Regions from separate parts of the Homo sapiens genome. Here region 2 is linked to region 1. Evidence: fine-mapped expression QTL. A gene starts in region 1. The other region holds a variant in brackets. All regions are shown on one strand. Distances are between the middles of the regions. Region 1 holds the start of RIN2 (Ras and Rab interactor 2). Region 2 overlaps RIN2 (Ras and Rab interactor 2).

Region 1 (5,372 bases):
ACACACACAAGGAATTCTGGTGGCAGTGAGGGGGTGTCTTACTGGGGAAAGGAGGACAGGGTCGGGGAAATCTTTCTTGCTGAAACTATTAGGATTCTTGAAGGTTCATTAGGTAGGTTGGATATACAAGGGGAATTGGGCACAAGGTCAAAGCACTATAATACAGAGAGTATGTGAAGAATGGGCCTCCCATTAATGGGTCACACGAGCATGGACCTCTCAGGGTAGCATACCCTGTGTTTCATCTGTGATACCTGATTCATCTGTGTCCTCCAAGCAGAGGAAGAGGGTTTAGCTAAGCAAGGAGGTTCTTTCTGGAAAGTGGAAGTCCTGAAGTGGGTAGTGACCCTTGACTTTGGATAAGGTGTATGGCAGGACACCTTGGGTGGGGATAAGAGTGCTGCTGCGAAGTTATCTTTAAATAAGCACACGCCATAGCCATCCTGGGAGTCAAGCTCCCTCCCACCTGCCCTACACTAGAGGTCAAGTGTGGGCTATTTCAGTTTCCTCCTCTGCTCTGATGAACTGTCTGCAGGAGAATGTTTCCAGACAAAGGTCTTGATAGCAGGTTGGTTTTCCCCGTGTCTCCAGCCTCCAACTACTGAGAGCAAGTCTCCAAACCCAAAAGCTCCTGTCAACAGCCTTCTTCCCAAGTTCCAAAAGCAAGGGCCCTTCACTGTCCCGGGACCCTACCCATCCCTAGCCTGTGATGCTCTCTCTGGAGGTGCCAAAGCACGGGAGTGCATGAGTATTCCAGAGGCAATATTGGAACCTGAGGCAAAAAGGAAAATTAGCACCTCTATATCCACTTATGACAATATCCTCCTACATTTGAATTAGGTAAAAAGTTAATAAAAGCTCTGCATTCAGTGAACGTGACTACATCTGAAGCCAGAGTTGCTCAATCTGTTGCATGCCACTGTCAACTCTCAAACCACCAGGCAAGGGAACAAACAAATGGGGAGGTGGGGGAGGGAGACTGGATATGACTGTTCCCATTGAACAATGAAGCAGGGTTCTTTTTTTTTAGACAGAGTTTCACTCTGTCACCCAGGCTGAGTGGAGTGGCACAATGTCGGCTTACTGCAACCTCTGCCCCCAGGTTCAAGTGATTCTCCCACCTCAGCCTCCCGAGTAGCTGGGACCACAGGCACATGCCTTCAGGCCCAGCTAATTTTTGTATTTTTAGTAGAGATGGGGTTTCACCCTGTTGGCCAGGCTGGTCTTGAACTCCTGACCTCAAGTGATCTGCCTGCCTTGGCCTCCCTAAGTGCTGGGATTACAGGCATAAGCCACTGCACCCGGCCTATGAAGCAGGGTTCTAACAACACCCACCTGTATTTAAAATGTTGATTTTTGCTTATCATGAATTTTTTACATTCAATTTGGTTTTGTTAAAAAGATTGTATTAAAATACTATTTATCTTAATGATGGAGTGCTGCCCTGTGTGTTTCTTTTTTCCCAGTAAGCCCTTTGCACTCCCAGCAAGTGTTTCTTTTTGCTTCAGTATTTACAGTCCTTTTGGTCGAAGAGTACTCTGATGTTTCCTTACCGATGACAGCGTGTTCCTAAGAAACCCCAATGTGCCCAAAACCGCGCAAGGAAGTGCCGCTACACTGCGGAATTAGGAAAGCCCCAGGGATTTAAGAGCTCTGAGAAGACAGGCGCCTCTCAGGGCCCAGGGGACCGATCTTGCCCTGTATTTCTTGGCAACATATCATAGGCTTTCAAGCTGAACTTCTGCAAATCCTGCTGTCCCCGCGCGGTCGAGGGGCGCGCCACCGCCGGTGGGTGGACGCCGAGCTGGTGGGAGCCCAGGCCAAGGGTGGAGGCCAAGCCCAGAAGGGGGCGGGGAGGCCTCAAAGTGGGAAAGTGGCCCCGTCCCTTCCCGGCAGGAATCCGGGGCTCCTCCTCCGCCCGCTGCGCAGCCATCAATCACCGCGACAGCCCAAGTGCCCCCTGCCCGGACACAACAACCCTCCTGCTTTTCCACCCGGGGGAGGAAATCTCCGGTCGGAGCATCTGCCCTGCACACTGGCTGGACTCACCAGTGGGGTCCGCGCTGGGGATCAAAGCTGTGCGACACCGGGTCTGACCCGCGCGCTCAGGCGCAGGGAGCACTTGACACCCCACAGGCAGCCCTGCAGGTAGAACTCCTCAAAGGTCCCTACCAAACTCCGTCCGGTGCACACGCACGCACACCCGCACCTCCGCACCTCGAGCCATAGTGCCTGCACCCTCCAGCTGTCCCTCACCCCAGCCCCGCACAGGTCAGCTGAGGACACCCGGTGACCCTGCCGGGACCAGCGGCCACCTCGCGCTCCGGAATGTCACTCTGCCCCTTGTCCCCACTCCCTGATCCCCCTTCCCCCTTCCGTTCCCCACGATCCCCGAGGACGCGCTCTGGCTGTCTTCCTCAAGTCCCCTCCGGAGTAGGGAGAGAGTGCGCACAGCAGCACCCACGTCTGGAACCCCAGAGAGCCCCGCCCGTGCCCGGAGCCTCTCCGGGCTCTCTAGGTGCGGGCACAGGGGGTGGGGTCTCCGCTGCCACCGCCCCTTACCTCTCGCGGGCCCTCCCCGCAGGTCCCGGAGGCGGGGGCGACCGGTGGCCCCAAAGACGAGCGCGGGGCTGGGTTTCCCCGCCCGGGAGGAGCAAGAGGAGGAGGAGGAAGAGGAGGAAGGGGGAGAAAGGAGGGGAGGGGAGGGGAGAGGAGAGGAAAGAGGAGGAGGGGAGGGAAGGGCTTTGTGTTTGCCTCGGGCCGTCCCTCGGCAGTAGGGAGCCATCCCCCTCCCCCAGCCACCTTCCTGAGCTCGCAGAGGAGATGGGGCGGGGGTGATCGGATCGGAGGCAGCGACCAAGGCGCCTGCGCGACCCCAGGTCCGGCCCATCCCTCCATTCCCTGTAACCGCCAGCCTCCGCCCCTCTTGACAACCACCCGCTACGCTTACCCTGTTACAAGGAACCCAGGCTGCAACCAGGAAAAACTGCCATCAGAAAGTTTATCTAAGCCGGAGCAAACTTGGCTGGACCGGCCCCTGACCCGCCTTGGCGCTGCCGCCCCTGTCTTCTGCGGTCCCCGGCCAGGCGAGGACCAGAGTTTTGTTCTCGGAGATTCTTGCCTTTCTTGTTTTAGCACAAACGCGCACGCACCCCTTTCCCATAACGAGCCCCTCCGCCCAACTACAGATCCCGGGATCTGTTGCAGGGGCTGGAAAGGCCCCACTCGAGAGGCCTGAGCTGGCTGCGGCTCTTGGTTCCGGGGCAGGTTCTCCAGGGTTGGATACGCTCTGGACGCCTGGGCGGGTTGTTTTGCTTCGGCCTCGCTGGCCAGGGGCCCGCCCACCCCGCCTGGAACGCGGTTTGGATCGGCGCTGGGAGCCCTCCGTAACCCCAGCTGAAGGCCGCGCAGGCAGGCGGGGACGCCGGAGCTGCGGGGCCGGTTCCCAGCCAGCATCCAGCCTTTTCGGAATCAGGCGGGTCCCTGGTGATTCGCTGGGTTTTCCCACTTCCCACGGGGACCTCACCTTTGGGAATTAATTGCTGACAGTGTTAGAGTTACAAAGTAGCCAGTGTCACGGAGGGAACCTCAAAGAGACAAAGGGACACCTCGAAGGTGTCAGAGAGACGGTTGTTTTGGACAGAAACAGAACAGCGAAGCGGAAAGAAAACAGACCTTATTTCTGTTCTGTTCCACTTCAGATAGTAGCAGAGGAGACTTGGATTTCATTGGTGTTGGTTTTCGTGATTCCTGCCTTCTAAAATCCCAAGACTTATTTATCATTTATCATCAGCTCAGATCCCAGGAAAACAGTCCACTGCACTTCGGTTTCTGCTCCAAGTCACCCATTAAATAAATAATTGAACACCTGCTGGTGCCAGGCGCAGTTCTAATGCTTGGGATATGTCGGTGAACAAAGCAAAGGTCTCCCTCACCTGGGGGAGCTGAAGGCCTGCGGGGAAGAAGTGGGAGACAGAGGGTAAACCATGGCCATCCCTAAGTAAATTATTTGGGGTGTTGGAAGAGGTCGGTGATAGGGAAAACAAGAAAAAGAATATGGGGGCCCAGAGTGCTTGTGTCTGGAGCAGGTCACAGAATTAAATAGATGGTGTGTGTCAGGCCTCTGAGCCCAAGCCAAGCCATCGCATCCCCTGTGACTTGCACGTATACATCCAGATGGTCTGAAGTAACTGAAGATCCACAAAAGAAGTAAACATAGCCTTAACTGATGACATTCCACCATTGTGATTTGTTCCCGCCCCACCCTAACTAATCAATGTACTTTGTAATCTCCCCCACCCTTAAGAAGGTTCTTTGTAATTCTCCCCACCCTTGAGAATGTACTTTGTGAGATCCACCCCTGCCCACAAAACATTGCTCTTAACTTCACCGCCTATCTCAAAACCTATAAGAACTAATAATAATCCACCACTCTTTGCTGACTCTCTGTTTGGACTCAGCCCACCTGCACCCAGGTGAAATAAACAGCCATGTTGCTCACACAAAGCCTGTTTGGTGGTCTCTTCACACGGACGCGCATGAAATTTGGTGTCGTGACTCAGATTGGGGGACCTCCCTTGGGAGATCAATCCCCTGTCCTCCTGCTCTTTGCTCTGTGAGAAAGATCCACCTACGACCTCAGGACCGACCAGCCCAAGAAACATCTCACCAATTTCAAATCCAGTAAGCGGCCTCTTTTTACTCTCTTCTCCAACTTGCCTCACTATCCCTCAACCTCTTTCTCCTTTCAATCTTGGCGCTACACTTCAATCTCTCCCTTCTCTTAATTTCAATTCCTTTCATTTTCTGGTAGAGACAAAAGAGACACGTTTTATCCGTGGACCCAAAACTCCGGCGCCGGTCACGGACTGGGAAGGCAGCCTTCCCTTGGTGTTTAATCATTGCAGGGATGCCTCTGTGATTATACACCCACGTTTCAAGGGTGTCAGACCACGCAGGGACGCCTGCCTTGGTCCTTCACCCTTAGCGGCAAGTCCTGCTTTTCTGGGGAAGGGGCAAGTACCCCAACCCCTTCTCTCCTTGTCTCTACCCCTTCTCTGCCTTTCCTGGGGCAGGGGCAAGTACCCCTCAACCCCTTCTCCTTCACCCTTAGCGGCAAGTCCCGCTTTCCTAGGGGCAAGAACCTCCCAATCGCTTATTTCCGCACCCCAACCTCTTATCTCTGTGCCCCAATCCCTTATTTCCGTGCCCCAACCCTTTCTCTGCTTTTCTGGAGGGCAAGAACTCCCCACCCCTTCTCCATGTCTCTACTCTTTTCTCTGGGCTTGCCTCCTTCACTATGGGTAGGCTTCCACCTTCCATTCCTCCTTGTTCTCCCTTAGCCTGTGTTCTCAAAAACTTAAAACCTCTTC
Region 2 (5,372 bases), 240 kb before region 1:
CTTCTGCTCCTTAACTTTTGCCCCATATCAGGAGGAGCTTCTGAGAAATGTGAGCTTTTCTGCTCACCCCCACGATACATTGTCTAACCACAAACCCTGGTTCGGATTTCATCTGTCCATGACACTGCGTGGTGCATGAATATATTCTTACTCTAAAGAAAAAAAAAAACAGCCAAAGGATATTTCAAAAATTATTTTCACACATGATTATCATACAGTATTACAATGTATTATGTGCAAAATTCCATTTAAAAAATCATTTACAAAAGTACAACACAGTATGTGCTGAGGGTTCTAGTTCAACAAAAGCCAAGGCTAAAAAAGGTACAAGGTACAAAGCCAACCAAATGAGATGACTATGCATCTTTACACAGTACAATAACATGTTTTTGTAACTACCTGTGTTACGTGGATACAAGACCCTCATAGTTTGTGCACCTGCAAACTGGTTTTATTTAACATAAGTTTAATTTCACTGCAGGTTCTGATAATGTAGATTGATTTTTTTGTGCATTTTCAAATTCTTCTCCATTATATAGCATCTTATTTAACTCAACAAAAGCCACATTATACATTACTTGGTTTCTGGTCCCAATAATTTGATGCTGTTAAGTTTTAATTTGTATGGAAAAGGGAGAAAAGTGTTCTTCTTGATTTTTATTTTCCTCAAGGGGCTTTCAAAATTGTTTCTACAAGCAAATCACACATGGAATAGATTTTGCCAAACCTCACTGCATATTTACAGTATTTTAAGCATAGGTGGTTCCTTCTATCTCTTTTTCTACATCTTTTGAAGAGCCTGAACCAGCAGACTGCACTCCTCAGTCCTTTGTTAGAGTTCATATTTCTCTCTCTACCTCTCTCTACATTCATTTCTCTCCTTATTCTCAGCATCATTTGTTTAAAAAACAAAACAGCAAAACACCACTAAACGTGAACAAGAGAACAGTACATCCGATTTCCAAAGGCATTCTGTGGCCAGTGTCAGGAATACGTTGCTTTAAGAAATCCAGCAGTCTCTCCCCACAAAGTTGCCAAAACATCCAGTTACAGAAGAGAGACTTTAAAAATGCAATACTCTCAAATCCAGCAAGAGATTTATTTTTGAATATTAAATGTTAAAATCACATGCATAATTATAGAATATTTTAAAGTTACAAAAATATTTTAAAACCAATCCTGACAGTTTACCTGCAACTGCTATAAAAATTTCTATGAAATATATAAAAACATGAAGGCTCTTTGTAAAAAAAAAAAAAAAAAAAAAAAAAAGGAAAAAGAAAGGAAGGAAGGCAGGGATGAAGCCATCCACAGGAGTGAGAATCACCTGACGCACTGCATCGCAAGCATCTGCTGTTGAATTCAAAAGAACTTGTATCTTAAGTGTTTCTTCTGCACATATACATACCTGTAAGCCAACCTAGAACCTGACTGGGGGTAGGTAGCAAACAATCTCAGGACACTTGAACCATCAGATGCAATTCTCCATTGCCAAAAGAGAATCCTACTGTTTCACAAACCTCAGCTACCTTGCGTGGCTAAAGTTGCCCTTGGCCGAGTTGGCCTGTGGATGGCTTAGTCACTACACTGAGGGGTCCCCGAGGAGGTGACTGCTTTTCAAGCTCAAGCATGTAGAAGCGGGAAGGCAAGGCTTCCAGCTCCCCTTTGGATGCACCACTGGGAAGTCCCGCCTGTCTTCTAGGAGGTGGTGAGGTCTTCTTCCCCGTTCTGGAAAATGATGCCATAAGGATCGTTCTTGATGCGTTTGTAGACAAAGTGGAAGATGTGGGGCTGTGGTCGGCTGTGCAGCTCCGCCTTGATTTTTTGAGGGTAAGTGTCCTCTGCCAGCTGCTGCCATGTCTCGTCAACGAAGAGAAAGAGGCTGTACTCCTCAGGGTCCCCCACCTTGAACTTCTCAGCGCAGATCTGACACACATCCTCAGTGGTGATGTAAGGTCTCACAAGGAGGGTCTTTCCTGTGCAACCACTGTTGACCTCCTGAAATGCAACTCGGAGGTAATTCTGCAGGTGGAAGAGGAATGTTGAGACAGTCAGAAGAGAAAACTAGATAGTGAGCATGATGGGGGACCAGGGGAGGGGGTAACTGTAAGCCATTTCCAGGCCCTTTCCTGTCATAATGTCCGATGTCAGGCCACGAGGCTTCGAATGGCAAGGAAAGAGGCTGATCTGACTTTGGACAGTGGCGAAGATGACTACATGATTCATTGCAACTGTAAGAAGCAGGAAGTCCATGCAGCCCTGGTTCTGATCTTTCCATTTCCCTCATAAGGTCTGGTTAAGAAACCCCTGCTTAAGAGTGTGAACCACATCCAATGCTGGGTTTATTCCCAGCTTGAAAACTAAACCAAATAGCACAAGAGTATGAAGGAAGTCAGCAGAAAGAGATTTAAAATATCTAGACACAAAAGCACGTACTGTGCTCACTTTTTGTTTTCTTCTTTTCATTTTAAGAGATGAGATCTCACTATATTCTCCAGGCTGGACTCATACCGCTGGGCTCAAGTGATCCTTCTGCCTCAGCCTCCTGAGTAGCTAGGTGTACAGGTGCATGCCACTGTACCTGGCTTGTGTTCACTTTTGACAAACTTTTTAAATAAATCCTAAGCAAGGGCAATCATTTAGGTTGAATCACACACACACAAAATGCGCTGACTTTTGACTATTTTTTATCTCCCCCAAATGGTGATTTCATGTAGTTCAATCTAATACAAGGCTCCTAGTGGCTCTGGGCACAATGTGGAAAAAGTCAGAAGGAGAAGAATGTTGATTTTGCCAAATACTTTGCAGATGGAGCTGATTACATGCAAGGTGGTGCTGCAGGGAATTAAACAAAGACGTTTGCAGGCTCAGGTGCTGCAATCATGCCAGGTACATGCTATCATGAAACATGTAAACCTGTGGCCTTACAAGATACAAAGCCCAGACCAGGCATAAAGAATCTTAAACTCACATCAGGCTCTCCTAGATTTTGTGACCCCAGATAACTTTGCTTCTGTTTCCTTAACAGTGGAGTTATCAGATGAAATCTAGAACA[G/C]CCAGTTAAATTTGAGTTTCAGCTAGAAAACAAATAGATTTTTTTCTGCTAAATCTGGCAACCCTGCTCAGCAGTGAAGGGAAGGAGGGCTCTCTGCCCAGGTGCCTGCAAGGTCACCACGAGGGTTTCCTGGGATAACAGAAGGGAAAGCTCTTGGGAAGGACAGTGAGCTCTGCACATGTAAGATATGTTTCATATCTGCTTCCAGTGGGGACTTTTGCTAGCCCAGTGACTTTGCAGGAGAGGTGAGCTAGTGGGAGGTGCCCAGATTGACAGTGACACTCTTTGAACCTTTTTTTTTAAGAGACAGGGTCTACATAATCCCTGTTTGACTAGTGCAGAAACTGAGGCACAGAGAGGCTACGTAACTTGCCCAAAGCCACACAGCTAGGACGTGGCAGATGCAGCCCCACCGCCTTTACCACCAAGACGTACTACCTCTTCCCATGTGAGAAGACCTCTGTGTCTGTGGCCTCTGATTTAGGGGTTCCAGATGGAGCTTTGGGTCTGAGGTTTTGCTTTGACCCCTGAGCCGAGTGCTGAACATTTCCTTCTTCGGTTACACTCTGAGAAGGCATGCACCTCCAAGGTGAGCAGGGTCAATGAGGGCAGGAGGGGACGGCTGCAGAAGAAGGCAGCTCTATGGTGTCTGAGGGTCTCCAGGTGAAGAGGTGGAGGAGGGTGTGTTGGCAGGTGGGGAAAGGAACAATGAACTTTTTTCACTTCCTCTGTTCTGCCCTAGGCAGCCCCTCCCTGGATGGCTATATGATGGCACCCCAGGGGTCTGCAGGCACTGAGTGGCACAGGGACCTTCTTAGTGCAACAGGGTGGGGAGAGTGCAGTGCGTGTATTCTCACTCTTTAGGTTTATGCGCTCCAGAAGGAATTTCTGAGCATACTGCAATCATGGAGAAGAATGAGCTGATCTTGGCTTTCAAAGATGGGCTTGCCTTTTTGTTTGTTTGTTTTTGATACAGGGTCTCATTCTGCTGCCCAGGCTGGAGTGCAGTGGTGTGATCATGGCTCACTGTAGCCTCAAACTCCTGGGCTCAACGGATCCTCCCACTTTAGCCTCCTGAGTAGCTGGGACTACAGGTGTGCACCACTACGCCTACCTAACTTGAAAATTTTTTGTTGTGGTTGTTTTGTCGAGATGGAGTCTCACTTTGTTGCCAAGGCTGGTCTCCAACTCCTGGCCTCAAGCGATCTTCCTGCCTTAGCCTCTAAGGTGCTGGGATTACAGGCATGAGCCACCTCATCTGACCCTCTATTTTCAGAGCTCTTATAAAAAAAAAAAATGGCCAGGCGCAGTGGCTCACGCCTGTAATCCCAGCACTTTGGGAAGCTGAGGCGGGTGGATCAGTTGAGGCCAGGAGTTTGAGTCCAGCCTGGCCACCACGGTGAAATCCCATCTCTACTAAAAATACAAAATAAATTAGCCAGGTGTGGTGGTGAGCACCTGTAGTCCCAGCTACTCCGGAGGCTGAGGCAGGAGAATCGTTTGAACCTGGGAGGTGGAGGTTGCAGTGAGCAGAGATCGTGCCACCACTGCACTCCAGCCTGGGTGACAGAGCGAGACTCTGTCTTAAGAAAAAAAAAAAAGCAGGTGAATCTGGATGTGTAGACAAATCTGTCTTGCTTTCCACATCCCTGCTTGGAAACTCATCATGGGGAACATAGAAACAAACCACAGGAAGGTTTTATCATTTAATTTAAAACCTTCAAAATATTATTTGCAGACATTTGCCAACTCACTCATTATTTCATAGACAATGAGCAAATCAGGAATTGTGTTGGGTAAGGATTTCTTTGTTTCTTTTTTGAGACTAAGTCTCACTCTGTTGTCCAGGCTGGAGTGCAGTGGCGTGATCTCGGCTCACTGCAACCTCCATCTCCTGGGTTCAAGCGATTCTCCTGCCTCAGCCTCCCAAGTAGCTGGGATTACAGGTGCCTGCCACTACACCCAGCTAATTTTTGTATTTTTAGTAGAGACAGGGTTTCACCGTGTTGGCCAGGCTGGTCTCGAATTCCTGACCTCAGGTGATCTGCCCACCTTGGCCTCCCAAAGTGCTGGGATTACAGGCGTGAGCCCTGATGCCTGGCCTTGGGTAAAGATTTCTATAGCCCTAACCCACCTGTCCATTCTAAGAAACAAGCTCACTGGGAGTCCCACATTCCCAAGCAGCAGCTCACGGTCAGGAAAAGCCCTGGCCAGGGAACCTGAGCAGGACTCGCTCAGATGCTCGCCTGGTCACTCTGCGCCGTGGACGGCTGCCATAGCTGTTGCTGCTGCTGCTGAGATTCTGGGGTCTTCTGTT

What was found.
Region 2: its variant is fine-mapped to the expression of RIN2 in fibroblasts (GTEx, PIP 0.91).

Annotation. Positions count from the first base shown.
Region 1 is chr20:19,755,518-19,760,889 of GRCh38, reverse strand. It overlaps RIN2 (Ras and Rab interactor 2), which reads right to left and starts at 2,632. Exons shown (of 13, transcript NM_018993.4): 1 at 2,563-2,632. RefSeq lists an enhancer at 1,669-2,243.
Region 2 is chr20:19,997,263-20,002,634 of GRCh38, reverse strand. It overlaps RIN2 (Ras and Rab interactor 2), which reads right to left. Exons shown (of 13, transcript NM_018993.4): 13 at 179-2,022. The coding sequence ends at 1,699. Among named protein-coding and RNA genes, the nearest start is that of NAA20, 17 kb to the left of the region's middle. The variant G/C (reference allele first, on the strand shown) is at 3,056.